Linked DNA regions of Homo sapiens: region 2 is linked to region 1. Evidence: fine-mapped expression QTL. A gene starts in region 1. The other region holds a variant in brackets. All regions are shown on one strand. Distances are between the middles of the regions. Region 1 holds the start of OR2W3 (olfactory receptor family 2 subfamily W member 3). Region 2 overlaps TRIM58 (tripartite motif containing 58).

Region 1 (15,480 bases):
AAACAGTTTATGTCCAAGGTGTATAAGTAAAATATACCTTTAGTAAAAGGATTATGAGGCATAAGAATGTACATTTTTACCTACATTAAAAAGTTTAAAAAATTATTGTTTTGAAGGTTTAAGCAAGTTTTAAAACATTAGTTATAAAGAAAATTATGTGTGTAAACATATTAGCTAAAGTTAAAGAAGTATCATCCAGTTTTTCTGTGAACTGGACATTAAAGTAAAAGCATAACAAGTTTTTCTTAAAGCACCAACCTGCTCTTTAGCAAAAATTATAGAAGGTTAAAAAGAGTCTATAAAATCTTACCTTATGGTCAAACATTAAAAATTAAATAAATGTCTACTAGGTTTTATTAAAATTAGGTTTAACATTAATAACACACTAATATAAAGATAAAATTTAGCTTATCTAGTATAAAAATCATATGAGAAGCATTGTTAAACGTAAAATGGTATTTGGTTTTCTTTGGTTTAAAAACTAATAAAAATAGGTGCTAAAGGAAATTTCTCAGTAAAAAGGCACTAAGTATTATAAAGTCCACTGCCAAGGTCCCCACATTTAAAACAAAAGGTCAATCTCTTAAAAACTATATACTTGGTTTATCTTCCACTTTCCTTTCTCGCAAAAAAAACTAAAAGTCTTTTAGCACAGGTACTACCCCCAGAATTTCCAGTAAACCAGCACCAGCCTGAAGATCACGTTCTCATCGAAAGGTGGAAAGAAGAAAAACTCGAGTCAGCCTAGGAAGGACCCTACCTTGTGCTGCTAACCACCAAGACAGCTGCTCATACAGCAAAAAAGGATGGACTCATCACACCCAGTCAAGAAAGTGCCACCCCCGCCACAGAGTTGTGGGCCATAGTCCCAGAGGAAAACCCTACCAAACTAAAGCTAAGAAAAATCTAACGCTTTTCATCTATTACTCTTTCTTCTTTCCGCGCTCTATTGCTGACCCTCTAGTTATTAACATAACCAAGTCAATTTTGCCTCAAACTATTGCATTTAATGCTTGCCCTTTTATACCCTGTGGGGACGTGCCAAGTCAAAGACAGCTCTCTACTTCAGAAAAGCACTTCTGTCCCCCTGACTCTCCTCAGACTGGGCGTTAGTAAACTAGGACCATTTAATCCCGGGAGATTTCGATAAACACCCCAGTGCCAACCAGGAGTCTTGCCCCCCGATGTAGAGCTTCCCTGCCATAGTTGGTCCAATGTTCTGTGGACCACTAAAGAGCAAGGATGGACTGCCCCAACCAGTTTTTGTAATTTCCTAAAACCATACATTCATTTTACTAGAGGATTATAGAAGTTAAAGACTTAAAACAAACTTTAGCAATTAAGACAGGATACCACGATGCAAATGCCTAGTTAAAATGGATCAAATATTCCATCTGCACGTTAAACAAAAGCAATTGTTATGCTCGTGCACATGGCAGACCAGAGGCCCAGATTGTCCCCTTTCCACTAAGGTGGTCCTCCAGTCGACCAGGCGTGGGCTGCATGGTAGCTCTTTTCCAGGATTCTACAGTCTGGAGTAACAAGACGTGCCAAGCTCTCTCTGCTATATCCCAAAGTCCAGCACCCTGAGGGTCAGCCCCCGAGGGCCATCCAGCTTCCATCTTCCAACACTAAGTTCATTTCGTGTCTCTCATGACAGGGAGGAAACTTAGCATTCCTTGGATACCTGAAAGGATGCAGTGAGCTTAAGAATTTTCGAGAGCTTATCAATCAGTCAGCCCTTGTTCATCCCTGAGCGGATGTGTGGTGGTATTGTGGTGGACCTTTACTGGGCACTCTGCTGAATAACTGGAGTGGCACTTGTGCTTTAGTCCAATTGGCTATCCCTTTCACCCTGGCATTTCATCAACCAGAAGGAAAAAAAATAAGACACTGTAAAGCGAGAGAAGCCCCTTACGGGTCTTTCGACTCTCGTGTCTATTTAAATGCAACTGGAGTCCCACGAAGAATAGCAGATCAATTTAAAGCTTGAAATCAAACAGCTGCAGGATTTAAGTCAATATTTTGGTGGGTGACAGTTAAGAAAAATGTAGTTTAGATAAACTACATCTATTACAACCAACAGCAACAAGCTTTTCATGAGTTAAAAGAAAAACTCACGTCAGCCCCAGCCCTGAGGCCACCTGACCTGACAAAACTCTACGCTCTATGTGTCAGAAAGAGAAAAAATGGCAGTTGAAGTTTTAACCCAGACTGTGGGGCCCTGGCCAAGGCCAGTGGCCTATCTCTCAAAACAACTAGACAGGGCTTCCAAAGCCTGGCCCCCAGGTCTAAGGGCCCTAGCAGCAAGGGCCCTGTTAGCACAAGAAGCAGATAAACTAACCCTTAGGCAAAACCTGGATATAAAGGCCCCCCATGCTGTGGTAACTTTAATAAATACAGAAGGACATCATTGGTTAACAAAGGCTAGATTAACCAAGTACCAAAGCTCGCTATGTGAAAATCCCCACATAACCATTGAAGTTTGCAACACCCTAAACCCCACCACCTTGCTCCCGGTATCAGAGAGCCCAGCTGAACATAACTGTATAGAGGTGTTGGACTCAGTTTATTCTAGCAGGCCTAACCTCTGAGACCATCCTTAAACATCAGTAGACTGTGAGCTGTATGTGGATGGGAGTAGCTTCGCCAACCCCTGCAAAGTGACTCTGAAGAAGACGACCAGCCCTGCTCCAGTCACACCTGGAAGCTGACTGGTCCACGCATGGCTGAAGCATGAGGAAACTCATCGCGGGACTCATTTTCCTTAAAATTTGGACTTGTACAGTAAGGACTTCAACTGACCTTCCTCAGACTGGGGCTGTTCCCAGTGCATACATCAAGTCGCTGAGGTAGGATAAAAGGTTGCTACAGTCTTATTATTTTATGGTTATTATAAGTGTACTGGAACTCTAAAAAGAACTTGTTTGTATAATGTTATTCTATACAAGGTATGTAGCCCAGGAAATGACCAATCTGATATGTGTTATGACCCATCTGAGCCTCCCATGACCACAGTTTTTAAAATAAGATTAAGGACTGAGGACTGGTGGGGGCTCATAAACGATACGAGTAAAGTGTTAGCCAAAACAGAAGAAAAAGGGGTGCCCAAACAAGTCACCTTAAAATTTGATGCCTGTGCTGTCATTAATAGTAATAAGTTAGGAATAAGGTGTGGTTCTCTTAATTAGAAAAGAGGCTATACGGCAGAAAATAAGTACATCTGTCATAAATTAGGGCTGTGTGGAAATAAATGTAAACACTGGTCTTGTGTCCTTTAGGCCACTTGGATAAAAAAAAAAAATGAGAAGGATCCAGTCCACCTTCAGAAAGGAAAAAATGGCCCTTCCTGTACTAAGGGACAATGTAACCCCTTAGAGCTAGTAATAACCAAGCCCCTTGAACCTCGCTGGGAAAAAGAGGAGCGTGTGACCTTAGGAATTGACGGGGCCGGACTGGATCCTTGAGTAAATATCTTGGTTCGAGGAGAAGTTTACAAACGCTCTCCTGAGCCAGCGTTTCAAACTTTCTATGATGAACTAAATGTGCCAGTACCAGAAATTCCAGGAAAAACATGAAATTTGTTTTTGCAATTAGCCAAGCATGTAGCCCAGTCTCTCAATGTCACTTCACATTATGTATGTGGAGGAACTGTAATGGGAGATCAATGGCCATGGGAAGCCCGAGAATTAGTACCTACAGACCCAGTTCCTGATGAATTCCCGGCTCAAAAGAATCACCCTGATAATTTCTAGGTCCTAAACGCCTCAATTATTGGACAATATTGCATAGCTAGGGAAGGAAAAGAATTTACTCACCCTGTAGGATGACTTAGTTGTCGGAGACAGAAACTGTATAATGGTACCACAAAAACAGTCACTTGGTGGAGTTCAAATCACACAGAGAGAAATCCATTTCATAAATTCCCAAAGTTGCAGATCGTGTGGACCCACCTGGAGTCCCACCAGGACTGGACGGCCCCCACTGGATTATACTGGATATGTAGGCATAGAGCTTATGCCAAATTACCTGACCAGTAGGCAGGTAGTTGTGTTATTGGCACTATTAAACCATCTTTCTTCCTACCGCCCATAAAAACAGGCAAACTCCTGGGCTTCCCTGTCTATGCTTCCCATGAAAAGAGAAGCATAGCTATAAGAAATTGAAAAAATGATAAATGGCCCCCTAAGAGAATCGTGCAATATTATGGGCCTGCTACTTAGGTACAAGACGGCTCATGAGGATACCGGACCCACATGTACATGATCAACCAAATCATATGGTTACAAGCTGTCTTAAAAATAATCACTAATAAAACCGGCAGAGCCTTGACCATTCTGACCCAGCAAGAAACTCAGATGAGAAATGCTATCTATCAAAACAGATTGGCTCTTGACTACTTGCTAGCAGCTGAAGGAGAAGTCTGTAGGAAATTTAACCTTATTAATTGCTGCCTACACATAGATAATCAAGGGCAAGTATTTGAAGACATAGTTAGAGATATGACAAAACTGGCACACGTGCCCATGCAAGTGTGACGGATTTGATCCTGGGGCCATGTTTAGAAAATGGTTCCCAGAGCTAGGAGGATTTAAAACTCTTATAATAAGAGTTATAATAGTAATAGGAACCTACTTACTGCTCCTTTGTTTGCTACCTGTACTTCTTCAAATGATAAAAAGCTTCATCACTACCTTAGTTCACCAAAAGCTTCAGCACAAGTGTACTATATGAATCACTATTGATCTGTCTTGCCAGAAGACATGGGTAGTAAAAATGAAAGTGAGAACTCCCACTATTGAGTGAGACTCTCAAAGGGGGGAATAAGGGAGTAGACCACCCCTCATATTGTCTTATGCCCAATTTCTGCCTCCAAAGAAAAAAAAAGTAAAAACTAAAAGGCAAATATCAAATCCACAAGCAGACAGCCCAGCACCACACCCTGGGCCTGGTAGTTAAAGATTGACCCCTGACATAATCGGTTATGTTATCTATAGATTACAGACATTGTATAGAAAAGCACTGTGAAAATCCCTGTCCTGTTTTGTTCCGATCTAATTACCAGCCCCCAGTCACGTACCCCCTACTTGCTCAATCGATCACGACCCTCTCACGCGCACCCCCTTAGAGTTGTGAGCCCTTAAAAGGGACGGGAATTGCTCACTTGGGGAGCTCGGCTCTTGAGACAGGAGTCTTGCCGATGCCCCTGGTCGAATAAACCCCTTCCTTCTCTAACTCGGTGTCTGAGGAGTTTTGTCTGCGGCTCTTCCTACTACACATCCACATCAGTACTTCTTACAAACAGCATCCTTGAATAGTCAGAGGGGGTGCTCTGGAAGCACAGGAATCCCCCTCTCTGGGGCTCTGGTTTGTTTACACTTACACAATGCCCTGGGGCTGGTGACTTTAGATGTGAGGTGTGGAGGTGAGGAGGATACAAAAGAGCGCAGAAATACACTTGTGGAGGAGGAGGGAGCCGAGCACAGGAGCAACGGCAGAGGAATGAGGACCACCCCTCAGCTGGCCTTTCACACCACTCCCTCTCACCTTGTGTTCGCCCTTGGTCTATGAACACTCTCCCAACTTTTTCCAGAATGTGTCCACCCTCCAAATGCCCGGAACAAGAGCAGGGGGTGATATACTTCCTGGGTTCTTAAAATGTAGTCCGAGTCCCCAAAGTAGGGACATCACCTGGGAGGTTTGCAGAGTCGCAGAAACTCAGACCCCTCTTATCACCAGCTGAATTGGAATTGCATTGGAACAAGACCTCAGATAACTGGAGGGCACGTTAGTGGGACACATTGAGGACTGCAATGTGTAAGGAACAGTAGCCAGTCATGCCCCTTAGCCCCAAAGGGTCTTTGACATTGTGTGCCAAATGCTTAAGGATTTTTGCTCTTTGAAATTTCATGATGCAATAGAAACCATATGAATCGGGAGTCTGACAGAACTTGGAAAAAACCCTGGTTCAGTTCCCCTCGAGCAAAAGATTTAACCTTCAGATCTCAAGGACCAGGGAGATAAAATGGGAATAATGATAATCATGCTGACCTCATACAAATACTGAGGTTGCATGACTTAGGAGCGTCTGGTACACAGAAGGGACTAAACCAATGTCAGGTTCTTCTTACTAATAATGAAAAAAACATGCCTGAGAAAGAATGATGCTTTAAGATTTAAACAACCCATGCATCATAACTTACAGGTTCACTTCTTGGTTTATGCAGAATCTTACACCAGATAAAGGGTAAAACAAACTCTACGATTTCATGAAAAGGTTTGGGTAGGAATTGGGAATATAGAAAATATAAAACTGTGCTGCATTCCATGATTTGATGGCCCTAAACAGAGAGGCACTTGGACCACGTGGAGAACAGTGATGCATTTGGGGTCATTCTGACTGAAACATGTCAGGTGTGTTAGACTTTAAAGCAAACAACAACAAACAAAGCAAAGCTCTGATTGAGAAGAGTTATTTCCTCTTAGCACTCTGGTATAAGTAGGTGGAAACTCATCTTTACAACTGTTTGTCTCACTTCATTCTTTGCAGCTGCTTTACAGATCATGATGGGTTTTGGGGATGATTTGTGTTATATAGTTCACACATAAATCACATAATGTTGGCCAGTCGCAGTGACTCACACTTGTAATCCCAGAACTTTTAGGAGGCCATGGCAGGGGGATCACATGAGGCCAGGAGTTTGGGACCAGCCTGGTCAACACAGCAAGACCCCGTCTCCATAGAAGACAGAAAAGCCACAAGCCACAATTCCCACTGCCAGTGATGCACACCTGTAGTCCCAGTTACTTGGAAGGCTGAGGTGGGGGAGGATCGCTTAAGCCCAATAGTCGAAGGAGCTATGGTGGCACCACTGCACTCTACCCTAGGTGACAGAGTGAGACCCCGTCTCAATTTTAAGAGCAACAACAAAAACACATAATGTCAGAACTGAAACAGCCTCACAAAAGTCCAGAAAAAGGCAAGTTGGGAGTCGTGGGCTAATATCAGCTGGAATTCAGCCGTTCCAGATGCTGCCAGTGGCCCTGGATGGAAGTGAAGTCAGGTGGAGATGCCTTTACTCCTTTCCTAGCTCTCTCTTCCCCAGAAGCAACCTTCCCAGTGCCCCCTTCACCTCTCTGTTTCTGAGGGTGTAGATGAGAGGATTGAGGAGGGGGGTGACAATGTTGTAGAAGAGCATGAGGAACATGCCCTGGTCCTGGGAAGAACTGGCTCCTGGCTGCATGTACATGTAGATGATGTTTCCATAGAAAAGGGAGACCACAGTGAGATGGGAGCCGCAGGTGCCGAAGGCCTTCTGCCTTCCTGATGCTGACCGAATTTGTAACACAGCCCTCACAATGTAGCTGTAAGAGAGCAGGATAAACACCAAGGGGGACAGCACAACACCCACCGCCAGGACAAAGACGGTGCCTTCGATGGCCACAGTGCTGACGCAGGCCATCCGGATCAGGGCGGGCATCTCACGCAGGAAGTGGTCCACCTCGTGGTGCCCACAGCGGGGTAAGCGCAGGGTCACAGGAGACATGGCCAAGGAGTTGGCCACCCCACAGCCCCAGGTCACTGACACCAAGCCCCGGCAGAGCCTGGGGTTCATGATCACCATGTAGTGCAGGGGCTTGCAGATAGCCACACACCGGTCATAGGCCATGACAGCCAGAAGCAGGCACTCCACACCACCCAGACCCAGGAACAGGAAGAGCTGGATGGCACAGCCCATGTAGCTGATGGTCTTGTCACATCCATTAAGGTTGTAGAGCAGCTGGGGGATGGAGCTGGTGGTGAAACTGAGGTCCAGGAAGGAAAGGTGGGCGAGGAAGAAGTACATGGGGGTGTGGAGGTGGGGGTCCAGCCGGGACACCAGGATGATGGTGGTGTTGCCTACGAGGGTCAGGAGGTACGCGATCAGGATGACCACAAAGAGGATCCTCTCCAGATGGGGTCGGTCAGAGAATCCCAGTAGGATGAAATGGGTTTGGGTGCTGCCATTGGTTCCATCCATCTCTACTGCTGCTGAACAGAAATATCAATCCTAATAATAATAATAACAGCTGATATTAAGGGAGAACTTACTAGAAGCTAAGCATTCTTCTATGCTTTTTATATTTATTTTATTCATTCAACCCCAACAGTTATATGGAGTTGCACTATTATTATTAGCTCCCAACTTATAGAAAAGGAAACTGAAACACATGTGTGTTGAGCAAACTGTGATATGTAGGAAGACACAGAGCTGATTCTGAACCCCGGCAATGTAGCTGAGAGTGTGCAATCTAAACCACCAGTAGCACTGCCTCCAAATCCAGTGAAGTGAAGGCAAATCCTGCTGTGGCCAAACCACGAATTTTTCTAGAGACTCCAGTCCCTAGGCTCCTGCCAAAAACCTCAAGGACTCAAAATGGAGCCTCAAAATAATCCATCAATAGTATTTAGGAAATACTCTTTACACACAGAGTACTTTATCTATTACTGGTCTCAAAGACACACCTCATTCATTGGGTTACCATTACTGAGGTAATTTTTAAATTACCTCAGAATTTAATTTAATTTAATTTTAAAATTACCTCAGTAGATAAATAATGTAAGAGACAGGCAAAATACACATAAAATCTCTTTTTTTCTCTCTGTCTTTTAAATGGGCCTGGTATTGAACAAATAGAGTGTATGGGTTTTTCTTCCAAAGTACTATATACTGCTTGAGAGGATAAAAGAGATTGAAAAAACTTTGTAACAGATATTACAACTGTAATGCAAAATTCACGCATATGTACAGAAACCTCTATCACGTTCCAACTCTAATACCACATCACATTCAAAGCAAAGCATATTTGATAAGACAAACCACAAGTCTTACAGATGGATATAGGGAGACTTGGTCCATCCTGGTGTTTGGGTGATGGATGCATTAAAAGCCAAGACTTCGCCACTGTGCAATACATGCAGCTAAAAAGCAGTACCCCCAAATTAATATAAATAGATATAAGCATGTATGTGCAGGTAAAAAGCAGTACTCCCAAATTAATATAAATAGATATAAGTATGTATGTGCAGGTAAAAAGCAGTACTCCCAAATTAATATAAATAGATATAAGTATGTATGTGCAGGTAAAAAGCAGTACTCCCAAATTAATATAAATAGATATAAGCATGTATGTGCAGGTAAAAAGCAGTACTCGCAAATTAATATAAATCCATACGTGGAGGTAACAAAACAGTACTCCCAAACTAAGACAAATAAAAATAAATACATGCGAAGATGGCCGAATAGGAACAGCTCCGGTCTACAGCTCCCAGCGTGAGCGACGCAGAAGACAGGTGATTTCTGCATTTCCATCTGAGGTACCGGGTTCATCTCACTAGGGAGTGCCAGACAGTGGGCGCAGGCCAGTGGGTGCGCGCACCGTGCACAAGCCGAAGCAGGGCGAGGCATTGCCTCACCTGGGAAGCGCAAGGGGTCAGGGAGTTCCCTTTCCCAGTCAAAGAAAGGGGTGACGGACGCACCTGGAAAATCAGGTCACTCCCACCCGAATATTGCGCTTTTCAGACCGGCTTAAAAAACGGCGCACCACGAGACTATATCCCACACCTGGCTCGGAGGGTCCTACGCCCATGCAATCTCGCTGATTGCTAGCACAGCAGTCTGAGATCAAACTGCAAGGCAGCAGCGAGGCTGGGGGAGGGGCGCCCGCCATTGCCCAGGCTTGCTTAGGTAAACAAAGCAGCCTGGAAGCTCGAACTGGGTGGAGCCCACCACAGCTCAAGGAGGCCTGCCTGCCTCTGTAGGCTCCACCTCTGGGGGCAGGGCACAGACAAACAAAAAGACAGCAGTAACCTCTGCAGACTTAAATGTCCCTGTCTGACAGCTTTGAAGAGAGCAGTGGTTCTCCCAGCATGCAGCTGGAGATCTGAGAACGGGCAGACTGCCTCCTCAAGTGGGTCCCTGACCCCTGACCCCCGAGCAGCCTAACTGGGAGGCACCCCCCAGCAGGGGCACACTGACACCTCACACGGCAGGGTATTCCAACAGACCTGCAGCTGAGGGTCCTGTCTGTTAGAAGGAAAACTAACAAACAGAAAGGACATCCACACCAAAAACCCATCTGTACATCACCATCATCAAAGACCAAAAGTAGATAAAACCACAAAGATGGGGAAAAAACAGAACAGAAAAACTGGAAACTCTAAAACGCAGAGCGCCTCTCCTCCTCCAAAGGAACGCAGTTCCTCACCAGCAACAGAACAAAGCTGGATGGAGATTGATTTTGACGAGCTGAGAGAAGAAGGCTTCAGACGATCAAATTACTCTGAGCTACGGGAGGACATTCAAACCAAAGGCAAAGAAGTTGAAAACTTTGAAAAAAATTTAGAAGAATGTATAACTAGAATAACCAATACAGAGAAGTGCTTAAAGGAGCTGAAGGAGCTGAAAACCAAGGCTCGAGAACTACATGAAGAATGCAGAAGCCTCAGGTGCCGATGCGATCAACTGGAAGAAAGGGTATCAGCAATGGAAGATGAAATAAATGAAATGAAGCGAGAAGGGAAGTTTAGAGAAAAAAGAATAAAAAGAAATGAGCAAAGCCTCCAAGAAATATGGGACTATGTGAAAAGACCAAATCTACGTCTGATTGGTGTACCTGAAAGTGATGCGGAGAATGGAATCAAGTTGGAAAACAGTCTGCAGGATATTATCCAGGAGAACTTCCCCAATATAGCAAGGCAGGCCAACGTTCAGATTCAGGAAATACAGAGAACGCCACAAAGATACTCCTTGAGAAGAGCAACTCCAAGACACATAATTGTCAGATTCACCAAAGTTGAAATGAAGGAAAAAATGTTAAGGGCAGCCAGAGAGAAAGGTCGGGTTACCCTCAAAGGGAAGCCCATCAGACTAACAGCGGATCTCTTGGCAGAAACCCTACAAGCCAGAAGAGAGTGGGGGCCAATATTCAACATTCTTAAAGAAAAGAATTTTCAACCCAGAATTTCATATCCAGCCAAACTAAGCTTCATAAGTGAAGGAGAAATAAAATACTTTACAGACAAGCAAACGCTGAGAGATTTTGTCACCACCAGGCCTGCCCCAAAAGAGCTCCTGAAGGAAGTGCTAAACATGGAAAGGAACAACCGGTACCAGCCGCTGCAAAATCATGCCAAAATGTAAAGACCATTGAGACTAGGAAGAAACTGCATCAACTAACGAGCAAAATCACCAGCTAACATCATAATGACAGGATCAAATTCACACATTACAATATTAACCTTAAATGTAAATGGACTAAATTCTCCAATTAAAAGACACAGACTGGCAAGTTGGATAAAAAGTCAAGACCCATCAGTGTGCTGTATTCAGGAAACCCATCTCACGTGCAGAGACACACATAGGCTCAAAATAAAAGGATGGAGGAAGATCTACCAAGCAAATGGAAAACAAAAAAAGGCAGGGGTTGCAATCCTAGTCTCTGATAAAACAGACTTTAAACCAACAAAGATCAAAAGAGACAAAGAAGGCCATTACATAATGGTAAAGGATCAATTCAACAAGAGGAGCTAACTATCCTAAATATATATGCACCCAATACAGGAGCACCCAGATTCATAAAGCAAGTCCTGAGTGACCTACAAAGAGACTTAGACTCCCACACATTAATAATGGGAGACTTTAACACCCTACTGTCAACATTAGACAGATCAACGAGACAGAAAGTCAACAAGGATACCCAGGAATTGAACACAGCTCTGCACCAAGCGGACCTAATAGACATCTACAGAACTCTCCACCCCAAATCAACAGAATATACATTTTTTTCAGCACCACACCACACCTATTCCAAAATTGACCACATAGTTGGAAGTAAAGCTCTCCTCAGCAAATGTAAAAGAACAGAAATTGTAACAAACTATCTCTCAGACCACAGTGCAATCAAACTAGAACTCAGGATTAAGAATCTCACTCAAAGCCGCTCAACTACATGGAAACTGAACAACCTGCTCCTGAATGACTACTGGGTACATAACAAAAAGAAGGCAGAAATAAAGATGTTCTTTGAAACCAACAAGAACAATGACACAACATACCAGAATCTCTGGGACGCATTCAAAGCAGTGTGTAGAGGGAAATTTATAGCACTAAATGCCCACAAGAGAAAGCAGGAAAGATCCAAAATTGACACCCTAACATCACAATTAAAAGAACTAGAAAAGCAACAGCAAACACATTCAAAAGCTAGCAGAAGGCAAGAAATAACTAAAATCAGAGCAGAACTGAAGGAAATACAGACACAAAAAACCCTTCAAAAAATCAATGAATCCAGGAGCTGGTTTTTTGAAAGGATCAACAAAATTGATAGACCGCTAGCAAGACTAATAAAGAAAAAAAGAGAGAAGAATCAAATAGACACAATAAAAAATGATAAATGGGATATCACCACCGATCCCACAGAAATACAAACTACCATCAGAGAATACTACAAACACCTCTACGCAAATAAACTAGAAAATCTAGAAGAAATGGATAAATTCCTCGACACATACACTCTCCCAAGACTAAACCAGGAAGAAGTTGAATCTCTGAATAGACCAATAACAGGAGCTGAAATTGTGGCAATAATCAATAGTTTACCAACCAAAAAGAGTCCAGGACCAGATGGATTCACAGCTGAATTCTACCAGAGGTACAAGGAGGAACTGGTACCATTCCTTCTGAAACTAATCCAATCAATAGAAAAAGAGGGAATCCTCCCTAACTCATTGTATGAGGCCAGCATCATTCTGATACCAAAGCCAGGCAGAGACACAACCAAAAAAGAGAATTTTAGACCAATATCCTTGATGAACATTGATGCAAAAATCCTCAATAAAATACTGGCAAACTGAATCCAGCAGCACATTAAAAAGCTTATCCACCATGATCAAGTGGGCTTCATCCCTGGGATGCAAGGCTGGTTCAATATACGCAAATCAATAAATGTAATCGAGCATATAAACAGAGCCAAAGACAAAAACCACATGATTATCTCAATAGATGCAGAAAAGGCCTTTGACAAAATTCAACAACCCTTCATGCTAAAAACTCTCAATAAATTAGGTATTGATGGGACGTATCTCAAAATAATAAGAGCTATCTATGACAAAGCCACAGCCAATATCATACTGAATGGGCAAAAACTGGAAGCATTCCCTTTGAAAACTGGCACAAGACAGGGATGCCCTCTATCACCACTCCTATTCAACATAGTGTTGGAAGTTCTGGCCAGGGCAATTAGGCAGGAGAAGGAAATAAAGGGTATTCAATTAGGAAAAGAGGAAGTCAAATTGTCCCTGTTTGCAGACGACATGATTGTTTATCTAGAAAACCCCATTGTCTCAGCCCAAAATCTCCTTAAGCTGATAAGCAACTTCAGCAAAGTCTCAGGATACAAAATCAATGTACAAAAATCACAAGCATTCCTATACACCAACAACAGACAAACAGAGAGCCAAATCATGAGTGAACTCCCATTCACAATTGCTTCAAAGAGAATAAAATACCTAGGAATCCAACTTACAAGGGATGTGAAGGACCTCTTCAAGGAGAACTACAAACCACTACTCAAGGAAATAAAAGAGGATACAAACAAATGGAAGAACATTCCATGCTCATGGGTAGGAAGAATCAATATCGTGAAAATGGCCATACTGCCCAAGGTAATTTACAGATTCAATGCCATCCCCATCAAGCTACCAATGACTTTCTTCACAGAATTGGAAAAAACTACTTTAAAGTTCATATGGAACCAAAAAAGAGCCTGCATCGCCAAGTCAATCCTAAGCCAAAAGAACAAAGCTGGAGGCATCACACTACCTGACTTCAAACTATACTACAAGGCTACAGTAACCAAAACAGCATGGTACTGGTACCAAAACAGAGATATAGATCAACGGAACAGAACAGAGCCCTCAGAAATAACGCCGCTTACCTACAACTATCTGATCTTTGACAAACCTGAGAAAAACAAGGAATGGGGAAAGGATTCCCTTTTTAATAAATGGTGCTGGGAAAACTGGCTAGCCATATGTAGAAAGCTGAAACTGGATCCTTTCCTTACACCTTATACAAAAATCAATTCAAGATGGATTAAAGATTTAAACGTTAGACCTAAAACCATAAAAACCCTAGAAGAAAACCTAGGCATTACCATTCAGGACATAGGCGTGGGCAAGGACTTCATGTCCAAAACACCAAAAGCAATGGCAACAAAAGCCAAAATTGACAAATGGGATCTAATTAAACTAAAGAGCTTCTGCACAGCAAAAGAAACTACCATCAGAGTGAACAGGCAACCTACAACATGGGAGAAAATTTTTGCAACCTACTCATCTGACAAAGGGCTAATATCCAGAATCTACAATGAACTCAAACAAATTTACAAGAAAAAAACAACCCCATCAAAAAGTGGGCGAAGGACATGAACAGACACTTCTCAAAAGAAAACATTTATGCAGCCAAAAAACACATGAAAAAATGCTCATCATCACTGGCCATCAGAGAAATGCAAATCAAAACCACTATGAGATATCATCTCACACCAGTTAGAATGGCAATCATTAAAAAGTCAGGAAACAACAGGTGCTGGAGAGGATGTGGAGAAATAGGAACACTTTTACACTGTTGGTGGGACTGTAAACTAGTTCAACCATTGTGGAAGTCAGTGTGGCGATTCCTCAGGGATCTAGAACTAGAAATACCATTTGACCCAGCCATCCCATTACTGGGTATATACACAAAGGACTATAAATCATGCTTCTATAAAGACACATGCACACGTATGTTTATTGCGGCATTATTCACAATAGCAAAGACTTGGAACTAACCCAAATGTCCAACAATGATAGACTGGATTAAGAAAATGTGGCACATATACACCATGGAATACTATGCAGCCATAAAAAATGATGAGTTCATGTCCTTTGTAGGGACATGGATGAAATTGGAAACCATCATTCTCAGTAAACTATCGCAAGAACAAAAAACCAAACACCACATATTCTCACTCATAGATGGGAATTGAACAATGAGATCACATGGACACAGGAAGGGGAATATCACACTCTGGGGACTGTGGTGGGGAGGGGGGAGGGAGGAGGGATAGCATTGGGAGATATACCTAATGCTAGATGACGAGTTAGTGGGTGCAGCGCACCAGCATGGCACATGTATACATATGTAACTAACCTGCACAATGTGCACATGTACCCTAAAACTTAAAGTATAATTAAAAAATAAATAAAAAAAGAAAAAATAAATAAATTAATTAAAAAAAATCATTAAGATCTCTGCCTACAGAAAAACTAGTTTTTGTAGTGAATGCTCAATAAATACATTTTTTCTTTGTTAAAAAATAAATAAATATATAAATAAATAAATACATGCATACATTTTGGGCTACAGCTCCAAACTACTCTGCATTATCCCTATGCCA
Region 2 (15,480 bases), 26 kb after region 1:
ACAAAGAAGGCAGTAAGGTTAGCCTTCAATGACTTTTAACCTTTTTGTTGGAAAGGTACAGAATATACTTTAAAAATAAGTTAAATATTATCATGATTTCATCATCATCATTATAATGTATTTAAATGGAAAAGCTGAATTCAAACCAGCAATATCAAATATGACCTTAAATATTTACCATAACACAGTGAGGCCAGTATAATTGTTCCATGTATAGGAACCATAACAAGCAGCTAAAAGAGAGAGAGAAGTGTTGTTTGAGGTCTTTTTTCTTTTTTGAGATGGAGTCTCGCACTGGGCTGGAGTACAGTGGTGAGATATTGGCTCACTGCAACCTCCGCCTCCAGGGTTCAAGCAATTCTCCTGTCTCCACCTCCAGAATAGCTGGGATTACAGGCTCCTGCCACCATGCCCAGCTAATTTTTCTATTTTTTTTTTTTTTTTAGTAGAGACAGGGTTTCACCATGTTGGCCAGGCTGGTCTTGAACTCCTGAGCTTGTGATCCACCCGCCTCAGCCTCCCAAAGTGCTGGGATTACAGGCGTGAGCCACTGCACCCAGCCTTAAGGTCTTATAACTAGTAAATATCTGCATTAAAGAACGAGTTGAATGAAAATTCTGATAAATTCCTACTTAAAGTGTATCCAAAGAAAACGGAAAAAGTCTAGGAGTTAGTGATATTAGATTCAGAAGAATGAGCTTTGTAATTCTTAAAAATTAGTCTCAGAATAGAAAGGATTTTAAAAGTAATTGAGTAAAGTCATAGGAAATGTGACCATATAAAGGAATGGCTCTAAATGTATTAATCCAGAAGGAAGCAACAGGTTAAACAGTAAGAGGTAAGAAACAAAAAATAAGGAACAAGAGAGAGAGAGTGACAGGGAGAGAGAGACAGAGCGGGGAAGGAGAGAATGAGAAGGAAAATCAGGAAAACGAGGAGAAACAGAATTAAGGAGGTGATACTGGAATAGTATCAGACCATTCTGAATCAATTTAAGAATTGCCATGTCTAATTCTTATATGGAAGATTTGAAATACAAGGATATTGAAAGGAATAACAAATTATAATGAATGCATAGAAATCCTTATGTAATCCAAGGTCATTAATTTGAAGGAAGACATCAAGAAAATGTGATCTAGAAATAGAGGTTGAGATTGCTCCATTTACAAAATTATTATGCTCTATAATCTTCCCATATGCAAATATTTCATATTCCCTCTTTTGTCCCATGGACATATTTCACAGCAACAACGAATCAAGTGCTGACCTAAATGGGGTATCTGTTAAAACTTAGTATATTGATATCCTTCACCCCACTCCAGGAACGTTCGCTACGCTAGGACTGCATCTTGGGAACAGAATTTTAGAGATGATCATCTCTTACATCAGAAGCAGGATCTAAATGATCCCTGGATGCCCAATTTCCTGACCCTGCTATTGTTGTGGGTGGCAAGATAAGAGGAGTTGCATCACAGATGAAAAAGTAAGGCCGAAGAAGACCAGAGAAGAGTTGGTTGAATGTGTAGATATAAGATCCATCTGTGACATTGTAGAATGAAATTTCACCGGCTTCATAGTCCAAGAAAATCCCAATGCAGCGAGGACTTTCCAGTTGGAGAAGAGGCACTGATGGGGAGGCAAGGACCATGTACTCATTCCCTTTCAGCAGCCACAGGGCCCAGACCCCATTCTCAGGAGATGGCGTGGTTTCCCCCTTTCTTGGCAGTGTGTCTTGACAGACCCCTAAACCCCACTCTGCTCCTTCTCCCACCAGAACCTCCCAGTAATGCCTCCCTGATGAGAAGCTCTGCAAACCCAGGATGCAGGGCCATGTGTCAAATCGCTCAGGGTTGTTGGGGACATCCCTCCATGGTTCTCCATCCTGCACACTGCGCAGGTCGGCGGTCAAGAGCAGACTCGGGTGCGCCGTGGCGGGATCCAGCTTTACATCCACTGCGGAAAGAATGTGGTGGACCAGGTGAAAGGAAAGAAAGGACTGGTAGAAACTTAGGAAACCACTGAAAAGAATAGTCCCACAGTTCCTCACTTTTCTCTCTCTATTAACTCCTAGAGAAAACAAATCAGTATTTCACCTTACAGGTGAAATCTTCTTTATTACTTTATTATTCTTATTCTTTATAACTTTCTGGTATATTCCACTGTTACCTCTGCGTAACCCAGAACTCTTTAACTTTCCCAAAAAAAAACAACTATTGATGACGACAAACCAAGTGAATTATCATTTAGTTTCCTTTCATTTACATCTAAAGCATTTGTGTGTGTGTGTGTGCGTGAGAGAGAGAGAGAGAGACAGAGAGACGGGGTCTTGCTATGTTGCCCAGGCTGGAGTGCAGAGCTATTCATGGGCATAGCCGTGGTACACTACAGCCTCAAACTCCTGGACTCAAGCAATCCTCCCGTGTCTGCCTCCCCAGCAGCTGGGACTACAGGTGCACACCACCATGTCTGGCTTACATCCAAAGCATTTGAGTGCACTTAGGAGGATCTTCTGCATTTAACATAAAATTTATAAACCCCTTAGGAATTTTTTTCTTAAAAATCTATAGAATTTTATTAATATTAAATCCACTACTTCCAAAGTTATATTACTGTGGTAGGCGGAATTCTAAGATGGACCCCATGACCTTCACACCCTGGTGTTAGCCTCATGAGTATGTTACACTATATGACAAGAGAGAGATTATCAAGGTGCGTCTAATCAAATCCCACAAGTCCTGTAAAATCAGAAAGTTTTCTCTGGCTATTGGGTTGGTGGCAGCAGGAAAGGTCAATAAGATGTGGATTTGATATCTCTTTGCTGGCTTTGAAAATGGAAAGGTCACATGAAGAGACAAACGAGTGACCTCTAGAGCTGAGAGTGATCTCCAGAGCTGAGAATAGCCCCCAACCAACAGCCAGCAAGAAAACAGGAATCTCAGTACCGCATTTGCACAGAATTGTATTATGCCAACAACCTGAATAAGGTTGGAGGTAAGGTTCTTCCCCCGACCTACACAGAAGCCTGGCCTGGCCTGGCCAACACCCATATTTGGGCCTTGAGAAAACCTAAGCAGAGGAGCCAGCTGATCCCACTTGGATGTCTGGTCTTCAGAACCATGAGCTACTAAATGGTATGGCTTTAAGCACATAAGCTTGTAGTTATGCGTTATATAACAATAAAAAATACTGATACTCTGAAGTCCCAGTGAGATTGATGAGACATTTGACCCATATACATAATAAATAAATACATCTAGATATGAAACCTCAGTGAAGGGGGGATGTAAAATATTCAGTGCATTTCCTTATTAGCATTGCTTATAAGTAGTAAGTTAATAAATAATATGGTTTGGATGTGTATCGCCTCCCGGTCTCATGTTGAAATGTGATTCCCAATGTTGAAGGTGGGGCCTAGTGGGGGGTGCTGGATCATGGGTGCAGATCCCCCATGAATGACTTAGTGCCATCCCACTGGTGATAAGTGAGTTCTTTATCCGTTCATGCAAGAGCTGGTCGTTTAAGAGGAACCTGGGGCCTCCCCACTTCACTGCTTCCCTCTTGCCATGTGATACGCTGGCTCCTCCTTTGCTTTCCACCATGACTGTAGGTGTCCTGAGGCCTCACCAGAAACAGGTGCCAGCACCATGACTCCTGTACAGCCTACAGAACCATGAGCCAAAATAAAGCATATTTCCTTATATTAATAAATTACCCAGCCTCAGGTATTTCTTTATAGCAATGCAAAATCAGACTAACATGTTAATATAGTTTGATTTTTAATATCAGAACAAATACTGTTTCTACTGCTACTGCTACTGCTACTGCTACTACCACTACCACTATACTTATTTGCCTTTAAACACTTACAGTGAACTACTTTTTTTTTTGAAACGGAGTCTCGCTCTGTTGCCCAGTCTGGAGTGCAGTGGTGCAATCACAGCTCACTGCAGCCTCCACCTCTCAGACTCAAGCCATCCCCTGACCTCAGCCCTCTGAGTAGCTGGGAAGGCACACACCACCATGCCCAGCTAGTTTTCTGTATTTTTTTGTAGAGAAGGGGTTTTGCCATGTTGCCCAGGCTGGTCTCGAACTCCTGGGTTCAAGCAATCCATCCGCCTCAGCCTCCCAAAATGTTGGGATTACAGGCGTGAGCTGCCACGCCCGGTCTAGTGAATTTTTATTGATACCCAACCTGAGTGGTCACGTAACTGCGCATTGCATTATTTTTATTATGTAACCACCCTGAGGGTCACCATTGTCATCCCTACATTACACAAGAGTAGATTCAGAGTCAAAGAGTTTATGTGGTCTTCCCAAACTCTAGAGGTAAATAACAGAGATTGAAAGGTAGGTCTCCATGGATTGTGCATTTAACACAATCTAACAGGTCATGTATTCCCAAGCCATTCCTCTTCCGGCACAGTGGTCTGCTTCATTTCTAACAAAAGAGATCTGTGAAATGGCTTTTGATATGGTCTGTATCCCATTCCTCTCCCTACCCCTTCTCTCCTAAACTCAATTCTTCATCATGATGTGACCATACCCCAACCAAACTGCGCATGTCCATCTTCCCAGGGACCTCCGTGTTGATGAATGGTTACTTGTCAGTTTGTCTTTTTTTTAAGATGGAGTTTTGCTCTTGTTGCCCAGGCTGGAGTTCAATGGCATGATCTTGGCTTACTGCAACCCCCATCTCCCGGGTTCAAGTGATTCTCCTGCCTCAGCCTCCCGAGTAGCTGGGATTACAGGCATGCACCACCACGCCTGGCTAATTTTGTATTTTTAGTAGAGACAAGGTTTCCTCAGGTTGATCAGGCTGGTCT[C/T]GAACTCCTGACCTCAGGTGATCTGCCCGCCTCGGCCTCCCAAAGTGCAGGGATTTACAGGCGTGAGCCACCGCGCCCGGCCCAGAGTTCATCTTCAATGATTTTTCTGTATCTCTCAACACTGAGAATCTACTTGTGCTGGAAAATCTCCCTTTTCCAAAGGTAACACTCATCCATGTTTCCCTTCCCTCACTGCTCACTACTCCTTGATCCTCTTTGCTGTTCTCTTCTCCTCCACCACCACCACTGGAGAAACCTATAGTCCCAAGACTTGGACTTCTTCTCTCTCTCTCACCTCACTCCCTATCTACCCGGGTGCTGGCTGGTTCATTGCTTTGATAAAATTCCATTCATATGCTGACTGATTCCCAATGCATGTGCTTAGCTTTGAACTTTACCCTGAAACTCCCTATTGTACATTCATCTGCCCACTTGATAGCAACATTTGAATATTTAGCACTCATCGCAACATCCACATATCCAAAACCCTGTGCCCTTCTTCTGCTTCAACTGTCGCTTTCCTCATCAATATAAGTGGCAATCACATTTTGCCAGTTCGCAAGATCCAAAACCTTGGAATCATTCATGGCTCTTCCTGTTTATAGCACATCATATATAATCCAACAGCAAATCTTAACAGCTCTGCCTTCAGTATATAACAAAAATCTGTCCATCTTGCGGCACCTTCCGTAATAACATCTATTCCAACACATAATCATCTCTCATCAAATTACTGCAAAGACCCTTAACTGCTTTTCCCATGTCAATCTTCTCCTCTCTGTAATTTACTTACAAGAAAGCATATAGAGTGATCCTCATAAAACATTAGTCCAATCAAACTATTTTTCTAGGTACAACTTTCAACTATGTCCTATTTCGCTCAGGGATAAAGTATCATGCTCAGCATGGCCTGCCTATCTAGCCCTTTCTTGGTCTCTCCGACCCTCCTGTCATTTACTCTGCCACAGAGTCCTCACACTGACATCCTCACAGCTCCTGGAACACACCTGCCATCCTCCACGTCAGGCCTTGGCGCTCATTTCTGCTGCCTGAATGCTTTCTTCCAGATCATATATTTGCTGGGTTATCCCCTGCAGGGCGGGGTCTTTCCTGGTCACCTTATTCAAAACTAGAACTTCTCATTACCCTTTGCATACTCTTTTTGATTTTCTTCAATATTCTGTGTCAGCCACTTACAGCCTGTGTATTTTGGTGAAGTACATATCTGCAACACAAAGCTACGGATTGTAGAGTATTTTGTTGTTGTTGTTGAATGATATATTCCAATGTTTAAAAGAATGGGTGAGATAAAATTAATCACACATTTTGAATGATTTCATTCCATAAAAACAAATATGGATATGAGGTTGCTGAGTCTGAGGGTGCCATGACGATTTTAATCAAGTTGGGCATTTAGCATACATTCATCTACCCAGGAGAACGTGGGTACTATGCTGCAGAGATGGGTTTTCTCATTAAGGGACTTTACACTCTTTCCCTCTAAGTAGTGAAGTCACTATTTAGACATAGTTTTCATTACTTGGGATAAATTAGATTTTAAAATGAAATTGTAAACAATACTGAATCTATACTGTTTTAAAGAATAATACAATCAGACTAAACACACTAATTTTTTGTGACACTGCTTATTCCTACATGAAAATAACTGACAATATTTTTGGCTTTATTGACTCACTAATTCAAGCAACTCATCAAATTCTCAGCCAATAAATTAAACCAAACTTCTTGCTAATTGATAACTTTGCAGTGCTTTCATATTGATTACTTTTAGGAGGTGGGGTGCTTTCAAATGTTTCATTTTGTCCTCCAAGCAATTTATTTTTAGCATTTTATAAGCAAGGAAATGTAAATTTACTGGAAGTAACGTTACTCATATCAGCTAATAAGAGATGACCTACAGTTTTAAGCCCATAGTCTAACCAAATGTAGACTCTATGGGTGGCCGTGACTCTGATACTGCTCATGAATATACTAATCCTCGTTCTTCTGGGCGTGGTGGTGCAGGCTCTATGGGTGGCCGTGACTCTGATACGGCTCATGAATATACTAATCCTCGTTCTTCTGGGCGTGGTGGTGCAGGCTCTATGGGTGGCCGTGACTCTGATACGGCTCATGAATATACTAATCCTCGTTCTTCTGGGCGTGGTGGTGCAGGCTCTATGGGTGGCCATGACTCTGATACTGCTCATGAATATACTAATCCTCGTTCTTCTGGGCGTGGTGGTGCAGGCTCTACGGGTGGCCGTGACTCTGATACTGCTCATGAATATACTAATCCTCGTTCTTCTGGGCGTGGTGGTGCAGGCTCTACGGGTGGCCGTGACTCTGATACTGCTCATGAATATACTAATCCTCGTTCTTCTGGGCGTGGTGGTGCAGGCTCTATGGGTGGCCGTGACTCTGATACTGCTCATGAATATACTAATCCTCGTTCTTCTGGGCGTGGTGGTGCAGGCTCTATGGGTGGCCGTGACTCTGATACTGCTCATGAATATACTAATCCTCGTTCTTCTGGGTGTGGTGGTGCAGGCTCTATGGGTGGCCGTGACTCTGATACTGCTCATGAATATACTAATCCTCGTTCTTCTGGGCGTGGTGGTGCAGGCTCTATGGGTGGCCGTGACTCTGATACTGCTCATGAATATACTAATCCTCGTTCTTCTGGGCATGGTGGTGCAGGCTCTATGGGTGGCCGTGACTCTGATACTGCTCATGAATATACCAATCCTAATTTTTCTGGGCATGGTGCACTCTCCCACGGAAGGAGACCAGGGAATTTTACCCTAAAATATGGCACCCTGGTATGCCCATTATTTTAAATTAAAGGCCCTTGGAGACCATCACACACTGTAAGAAGCTTTATTCTAACACTCATTTATCTGCCTGAAGTCCCTGCATTTTAATTAATTTAGCTCATATTGCAGGAAGACAGACAAGTCTATCAATACACCTGGACAGACTTTAGTCACAAACCACTGTCTACTTTTCAACACTTTGTCCCAAGCCACTGTATGCACTCCAAGCCCAATGAATCCTCCAAAAAATCATTTACTATCTCCCTAAAATCATCCACACCTCCCCATCTCCCTTTCCTCCAATAAAGAAAGGTATATAAGCATCTGTATCCCACTGCGTTATTGGGTCATTACTCTCCTGCGATTCCACTGTGCTATGAATGTTAGACTTTTTCTATGCCTTTGTTCCTATTTGTCTTTGGTCAGTTGATTTTCAGCAAACATTCATAGGGAAAGGGGAAAGTTTTCCCTTGCCCCCTACACTGTCTCCTTGATAGTTTGACTTAGCCATGAAATCTCAGGAAGGCCAGATGCTCTAATTCAGCATGGGTACCTTTAAGAGGAGTGCATGAGTCACCATGCCTATGATACTGTGAAGTACGTATTTGGTCTACAGTGCAGGAGGCACCATACCTATGACACTGGGAAGTATATATTTGGTCTACATTCACCATGCCTATGATACTGTGAAGTGTGTATTTGGTCTATATCCTGTTTACTGACATACAGTTCTTAAAATCCTTGAAATTTCCAGAAATACAAGAGTGTCTTTTGTAAGCTAATAAGATGAATTGTGGTTGGTGATTACCCAGAAAGCCTCCCACTGGGTGTGGTTGCCAGGGGAACCAACCATGTGATTAGAGGCTTGAAACTTTCAGTCCTTCACGCCTCACCCCCCCCCACCTCTGAAGAGGGAGAGGGGCTTAAGGGTGGGTTGGTAAACCAATGGCCTATGATCTAATCAATCACGTCTACATAGTGCTTCCATAAAAACCCAAAATAACTGAGTTCATTGGCCAGGCACAGTGGCTCACGCCTGTCATCTCAGCACTTTAGGAGGCCGAGGCAGGCAGATCATTTGAGGTCAGGAGTTCGAGACCAGCCTGGCTAACATGGTGAGACCCCGTCTCTACTAAAAATATAAAAATTAGCCAGGCATGGTGGCATGTGCCTGTAATCCCAGCTACTCGGGAGGCTGAGGCAGGAGAATCGCTCGAACATGGGAGGTGGAGGTTGCAGTGAGCTGAGATGGCGCCACTGCACTCCAGCCTGGGCGACAGAGTAAGACTTCATCACACACACAAAAAAAAGAACTGAGTCCTGAGGACTTCCAGATCACTGAACACACGGAGGTTCCAAAGGTAGCAGGCCTAGAAAGGGCGTGGAAGCTCCGTACCCCTTCTCACAAACCTCGCCCTAAGAATCTCTTCCATCTGTTCATCTCTAGCCTCTGTAACGCCCTTATAATAAATGAGTAAATATGTGTCCCTAAGTTTTGTCAGCTGTTTCAGGAAATTAAGTGAACTCAAGAAGAGGGTTGTGGGAACCCCAGTTTACAGTCAGTTGGTCAGAATCACAGACCACAACCTGTGCTTGTGACCAGCATCTGAAGTGGGGTCAGTCTTGTGGGACAAAGCCCTCAACCCGGGGAACCTGGTGCTATCTCCAGATAGATAGTGTCAAAATCAAATTGCATGGAAGGACATCTGGCTGGAGTATCTGCTGGAGAACTGATTGGCTGTTTGCGGAGAGAAATCCCCACACATTTTGGTGACCAGAAGTGATGTGTTGTATTGACTCTGGAAGAGAACTTCTTCCCCCATCTCTTCAATAACCCTGCCCTTTTCTATGGCTCCCAGCACCAAGAGGGAGGTAGAGCTCTGTCAGTATGGGTACCAGAGTGAGAAGATGTGGCACAGAAGTCCCCACACCTAGGAACAAACCAACAGCACACTCTCAAAATAAATTTCTGCTGATCTGGGCCACTAAGACTTTAGGTTCTGTTGGTCACTGCAGCTGACTGGCATAGTGACAAACCACAATACGAGGCAAACCCCAGGCAGCCTCATTCCCAGTCTCTAAGATGCAACTACCTTGGAACTTCTTCAAACCCCAGGCAGCCTAATTCCCAGTCTCTAAGATGCAACTACCTTGGAACTTCCTTAAGAGCTCCCTCCTCCCAGGGATGCAGCATGCTGTCTTCAGTTCCATGGGGATGTTCTCTGCTTCCAGCCTTGTGACAGCCTTACTTCTGGGAAGAGCACAGAAACCACAGAAGTCAGCAGGGTTCTCCACCAGCTCCTCTGCCTCTCCCAATCCCTTCACCAATTCAGAAAGCACACATACCTGCTCAGGACTCCTCTCACACCCTGAAAAGGAAAGAAAAACACAGTGTGAGTTGGACTCTGAACTGCTTTTCACAGTCAGACTGAAGACCCCATAAAAATTTCCTTAGAAACTACTGCAAAACATTATTGAGATAAAATTATAGGGGACAATAAATCTCTTTTCTATTTTTTTTTTGAGATGGAGTTTCGTTCTTGTTGCCCAGGCTGCTGGAGTGCAATGGCGCAATCTCGGCTCACTGCGACCTCCACCTCCCTGCCTCAGCCTCCCAAGTAGCTGGGATTACAGGCTCCCGCCACCACGCCTGGCTAATTTTTTTTATTTTTTTGTATTTTCAGTAGAGATGGGGTTTCACCATGTTGGCCAGGCTGGTCTCGAACTCCTGACCTCAGGTGATCCACCCACCTCAGCCTCCCAAAGTGCTGGGATTACAGGCGTGAGTCACCACACTCAGACAAATCTCTTTTCTTTAAAGCTATACAAAGTTTAGGTTAATTCCTGCAACACCTATCAATTTAATTATCTTCTGAATTAATAATTCTGCTACTTGGATATTGTAACAGAGTAACATTCTGCATGTAATTCAGACGGAACAGGATAAAATAGATCCTAAGTACTCATAGAATTTATTTGAGGGGCATGGATAGGTTCCTCAAATAAAGACACAAAATGTTTCCCTAAATATCTTTATAGGAATTATAAATTCCTAATTCTCTGAACCAACGTACCAGAGCTATTCCTATGAGGAGGTTATCTAAATAGATTAATAAAGGAAGCCTTTAATAACTAGTAACATTATTTTCTCAAAGTAGATTATTAAATAAATATATCTGTGATACATTTATTATATTAATAATTGTATTTGGGATACATTTCCCCTCTCCCCTTAAAAACAGTTGCCAGTCAGATAAGTTTTAATGACATAAAAGCAGGGGAATAATTTGCTTTACCCTGTATGGGAATGTCAGGCCTTGGTCTTGGCCTTCAGGGGTAAAATGTAGCTTATTAGTACCAGGGAAGAAAGGGAAAGGAAAGTATAAAAATATACAGCCTGGGCAACACAACCAAGCCTCATCTCTACTAAAAATTTGTTTTAAATTAGCTGGGCGTGGTGGTGCACACCTTTAGTCCCAGCTACTCGGGAGGCTGAGGCACAAGGATCACCTGATCCTAGGAGACTGAGGCTGCAGTGAGCTATGATTGAGCCACTGCACTCCAGCGTGAGTGACAGAGTGAGATCCTGCCCTTTTAGAAAAATAGATAGATAAGATACCTTATTTAAGAATATATCCTCCCATGCCAGGCGGGGTGGCTCATGCCTACAATCCCAGCACTCTGGGAGGCCAAGGCAGGCAGAGCAATAAATACTATTGTTGAAATTGTCAAGCCGGGCACAGGGGCTCACGCCTTTAATCCCAACACTTTGGGAGGCCAAAGTGGGCGGATCACCTAAGGTTAGGAGTTCAAGACCAGCCTGGCCAACATGGCAAAACCCCATCTCTAGTAAAAACGCAAAAAAAAAAATTAGCCAGGTGCGGTGGCACATGCCTGTAATCCCAGCTACTCAGGAGGCTGAGGCAGGAGAATCGCTTGAGCCAAGGAGACAGAGGTTGCAGTGAGCCAAGATCACACCACTGCACCCTGCACTCAGCCTGGGCAACAGAGCGAGACTCTGTCTCAAAAAAACAAAAGAAAAGAAACCGTCAAAGTTCTTGTATTTTGCTCTCTGCTATTTGGAAAATTAATTCCTTTCTGACTCTTAGTTTGCTAACAAGGAAATGAACATAGCAATAATAATAAAATATAAATTTAATATATATAAGATAAAATGAGACAAATTAAATGGCTTTATAAATTCATCTAATGGTCCCCTGCCTCATAATCAGTCCTGTTTAGTCATTGTACTTGCAAATATTATACAGACAGTTAATAGGATTATTTATATTCATGGTACTTTCAGTGCCTAGAACTGAGTCAGAAAAGGTGGAATCCGTGGGTCAGCTTTTAAATGAGAACATGCATCACTTAGTTTAGAATCCCCTGCGTGAGTCACTGGGGAGGAGATAGGAGTCGGTCCAGATAAATTTCTGTTGCCATTGGTTCTACCAAGAAAACATGGATCTATCAACAACTTTGGCTTTCCCTGTTCACTTGGGATATGATGCCTCACAGAGGATTAAAAACAAAGATTTCCTTTCACTCTTACTCGTCTTTCTGCTCTCTAATCCCAAACAGACTGGGAGGAAGCTGCACGGGAGTCCACGTAATCCCTCCTCGCCATGCCTGGAACGGGCATGCAATGTGGGCCAGGAAATCAGTGTTTGCTTTACAATCCAATATAACAATTTCAAGCTGGACAATTTAAATCATTATTCATCCTTCTGGCCAGTGACACTGAAATGTATTATGCAGACTTTCTGTGCTAGCCATCCCTAAAAAACAGCAATGCTATCATGGACAAACTGACTCTGAGGTTTTAGGAATTACTTCTCAGCCAGCAGAGTGTAGCTTGTCCTTTCCCTAGCTGTTTAAGTTTTCAGAAATCATTAATTTTAAGAATTCTTTAGTCCTTAAAACAAACTATATGCTGTTTGTTTGTTTTTTGAGACAGGGTCTTGCTATGTTGCCCAGGAAGGTCTCGATTTCCTTGGCCCAAGCGATCCTCCTGTCTCAGCCTCCCTAATAACTGGGACTACAGGCATGTGCCACCATGCCAGACTCAAACTATATGATTCTCTAGAATCTCATGATTCTGATGCCAGGAATGGCTTCTGAGTAAATTCTAGGGTGTTTAAGCTGCCTTCTGAGTAAATTTGAGGGTGCCCTTTTCCTAAAGAACATAAACGCCAAAGTGTTTGTCTCTGAAAGCCATTGTACTAGTCTCTGTCACCTGAGTCTCACATCTGCCTGCTTTTCTGGCACCCGGCCTCACCTCCAGCAGACCCAGGGCCGGGCGCTGGCACCTCTCCTGCAGCTCATCCGCCAGCTCCTTCAGGGCCTTGCTCTGCTGGACCAGCCGGCTCTTGCTCTCCCGCAGTCTCTGCAGCGTCGCTCGCTCCTCCGCCTCCAGCCGCCTCAGCTGCCGTTGCTCCTCCTGGGCCAGAAAGCCACGATGCTTCTCAAACTCCAATCTGAAGCGCTGCCTCTGCATTTCCACTTTCTCCTGAGGTGACACCGTGGATCACATCGTCAGTGCTTGGCCTCCAGCAGCCATGTACAGGACAGTGCTGGAGAAGGTAATGTCCAGACTTCCCCGGGCTCCGTAACTCTGTGGACTCACTGGTTGCATCCTAACAACATGCACAGACTGGAGTCCATTCATATAAGAAGTAGCCCAGGAGAGTTTTCAAATTAAGTTTAAAAAATACTGTTGGACTGGAGTTCCCATTTTGCCACAGGCTTGGGGGCAAGGCACTTTTATACTGAAGTTTCAGTACCATATACAAAATGTGAGGTTTTGGGGAGGTCGAGGCAAGAGGAGTGCTTGAGGTCAGGAGTTCAAGACCAGCCTGGGTAACAAAGCAAAATGCGACCCCATCTCTAAAAAAATTAAAATGAACCGACCAGGCATGGTGGTAAGCCCTGTAGTCCCAGCTACCCACAAGGCTGAGGTGGGAGGATCACTTGTCTAAGAGCTCGAGGCTGCAGTAAGCTGTGATTGCACCACTGCACTTCAGCCTGGGTAACAGAGCAAGACTCCATCTCTTAAAAAATGTGGGGAAAAAGAGGAGTATGTGGATTACAGCTAAATATCTATTAAACTACAAGAACAGTGATTAGCATAGAGCAGTCACACAGCAGAAGTTACTATTTACTACTAGATCAGTCGCTAGAACCACTAGAAACAACTGAATGATGAAGAAATGTTTGTTTGAATAAGAAAAGGCTGAGAGATGAGAAAATATGAATGCTGTTTCATAATATGGTAATAGTGAACACAACCATAAGCCTAACATTCTCTACAAAGCCAAGAAAGAACTAAGTGATGCTCAGGCCACTGATTTCAGAGTTCACGTCAGAGAATTAATCCCAATTTCTACCTGAATCTCACGTCTTCAGTTTCTGAATAGACCTAAGGAACATACTTCGTCCCAGGCTTAGTTTCTAGATTTTCTTCTCTCAAGATAAGTATATCGAAAACTAACTTTAAGCTGAGTACGAGAGGTAAATTATTCCCTCAAAGTATCTATACCTCCCATTCTCTGTCCTGTTTTATCGATTTATTTTATTTTTTGTATATATTCATGGGGTACAAATGCAGTTTTGTTACATTGTTATACGGCCTTGTAGGTGAAGTCATTTGCCTGGTTTTTTTTTTAATCTTTTTTTTGAGACAGAGTCTCGCTCTGTCACCCAGGCTAGAGTGCAGTGGCGCGATCTCGGCTCACTACAACCTCCTCCTCCTGGGTTCAAGTGATTCTCCTGTCTCAGCCTCCCGAGTAAGTGGGATTACAGGCACGCAGCACCATGCCCAGCTAATTTTTGTATTTTTAGTAGAGACAGGGTTTCACCGTATTGGTCAGGCTGGTCTCAAACTCCTGACCTCACGATCGGCCCGCATCGGCCTCCCAAAGTGCTGGGATTACAGGCGTGAGCCACTGTGCCCAGCCTATTTGCCTGTTTTTAAACGTGATAACTTCTTGCTTTGACTAAAAGGCATGAGCTATCACCTTTTTAAACTAAACATCCCCTAAGACTTAACTACTTCCTTCCATTTTCCATCTCTACCTCCTTCCACCATTTTCTAAATCACCAGATTCAGAAAACTTCATCTTCTTTCTGAAATCAGCCAAGTCTGAATTCCATACACTGATTCCTGAAAGTGTAACTCATGTAAATATGAGAAGCTCTCTTCATATCAGAGGCTGTGCTGTCGTGGGGTGGGGCAAATAACGCAGCCACTGGAGAAGGGTAGAGTCATACCTGGGGCACGAGGGGGTGTGAGGTGGGAAGGTGGGAAGCGATTTGCCTGCAATCCATCTTCCTTTCACACCACCCTCTTGAGCACAACTATATCTGCAGACAGAGAAAAAGGAAAGGTGGTTTTGCAGTATTTAGAATAACTTTTGACCAAAGATGTGTTTGCTGCATTTGGCTCACATGGAGACATTCTTGATGGTAATGATCATGCAAGTTTACTTGGCTTAGAACAGGGATCTTAGTATCATCCCTACTTAAGAATAATCTGTAGAGGGCTTAAAACATGCAGGAACTCAGCTCTCCGATATGGGGATTCTGATTTTATAGATCTATGGTCAGGCCAGGATTGAAAACAACTGACTTGTATTTCAGCCTGAAAAGAACAAAAATTATCAATCAATATTACAATATTAAATAATGTACATCCTACCACTATGTACATTATAGGCAAGTAATGAACATTATTTAATACTGTAAAGCTTTGTTCTTGTTCTTTTTATCTCCATTGCCACTACCCAATCGAAACTATGCTTTACTAGCTTGATCTTACTGCAGAACCCACTGCTATATCCCTA

The links. PIP is the estimated chance that this variant, and not a neighbour inherited with it, causes the effect.
Region 2: its variant is fine-mapped to the expression of OR2W3 in thyroid (GTEx, PIP 0.97).

The regions. Positions count from the first base shown.
Region 1 is chr1:247,888,128-247,903,607 of GRCh38, reverse strand. OR2W3 (olfactory receptor family 2 subfamily W member 3) reads right to left here and starts at 8,021. Exons shown (of 1, transcript NM_001001957.2): 1 at 7,077-8,021. The coding sequence starts at 8,021. The coding sequence ends at 7,077.
Region 2 is chr1:247,862,373-247,877,852 of GRCh38, reverse strand. It overlaps TRIM58 (tripartite motif containing 58), which reads right to left. Exons shown (of 6, transcript NM_015431.4): 3 at 12,918-13,148; 4 at 9,986-10,008; 5 at 9,790-9,890; 6 at 1-1,953. The coding sequence ends at 1,364. Among named protein-coding and RNA genes, the nearest start is that of TRIM58, 13 kb to the right of the region's middle. The variant C/T (reference allele first, on the strand shown) is at 4,824.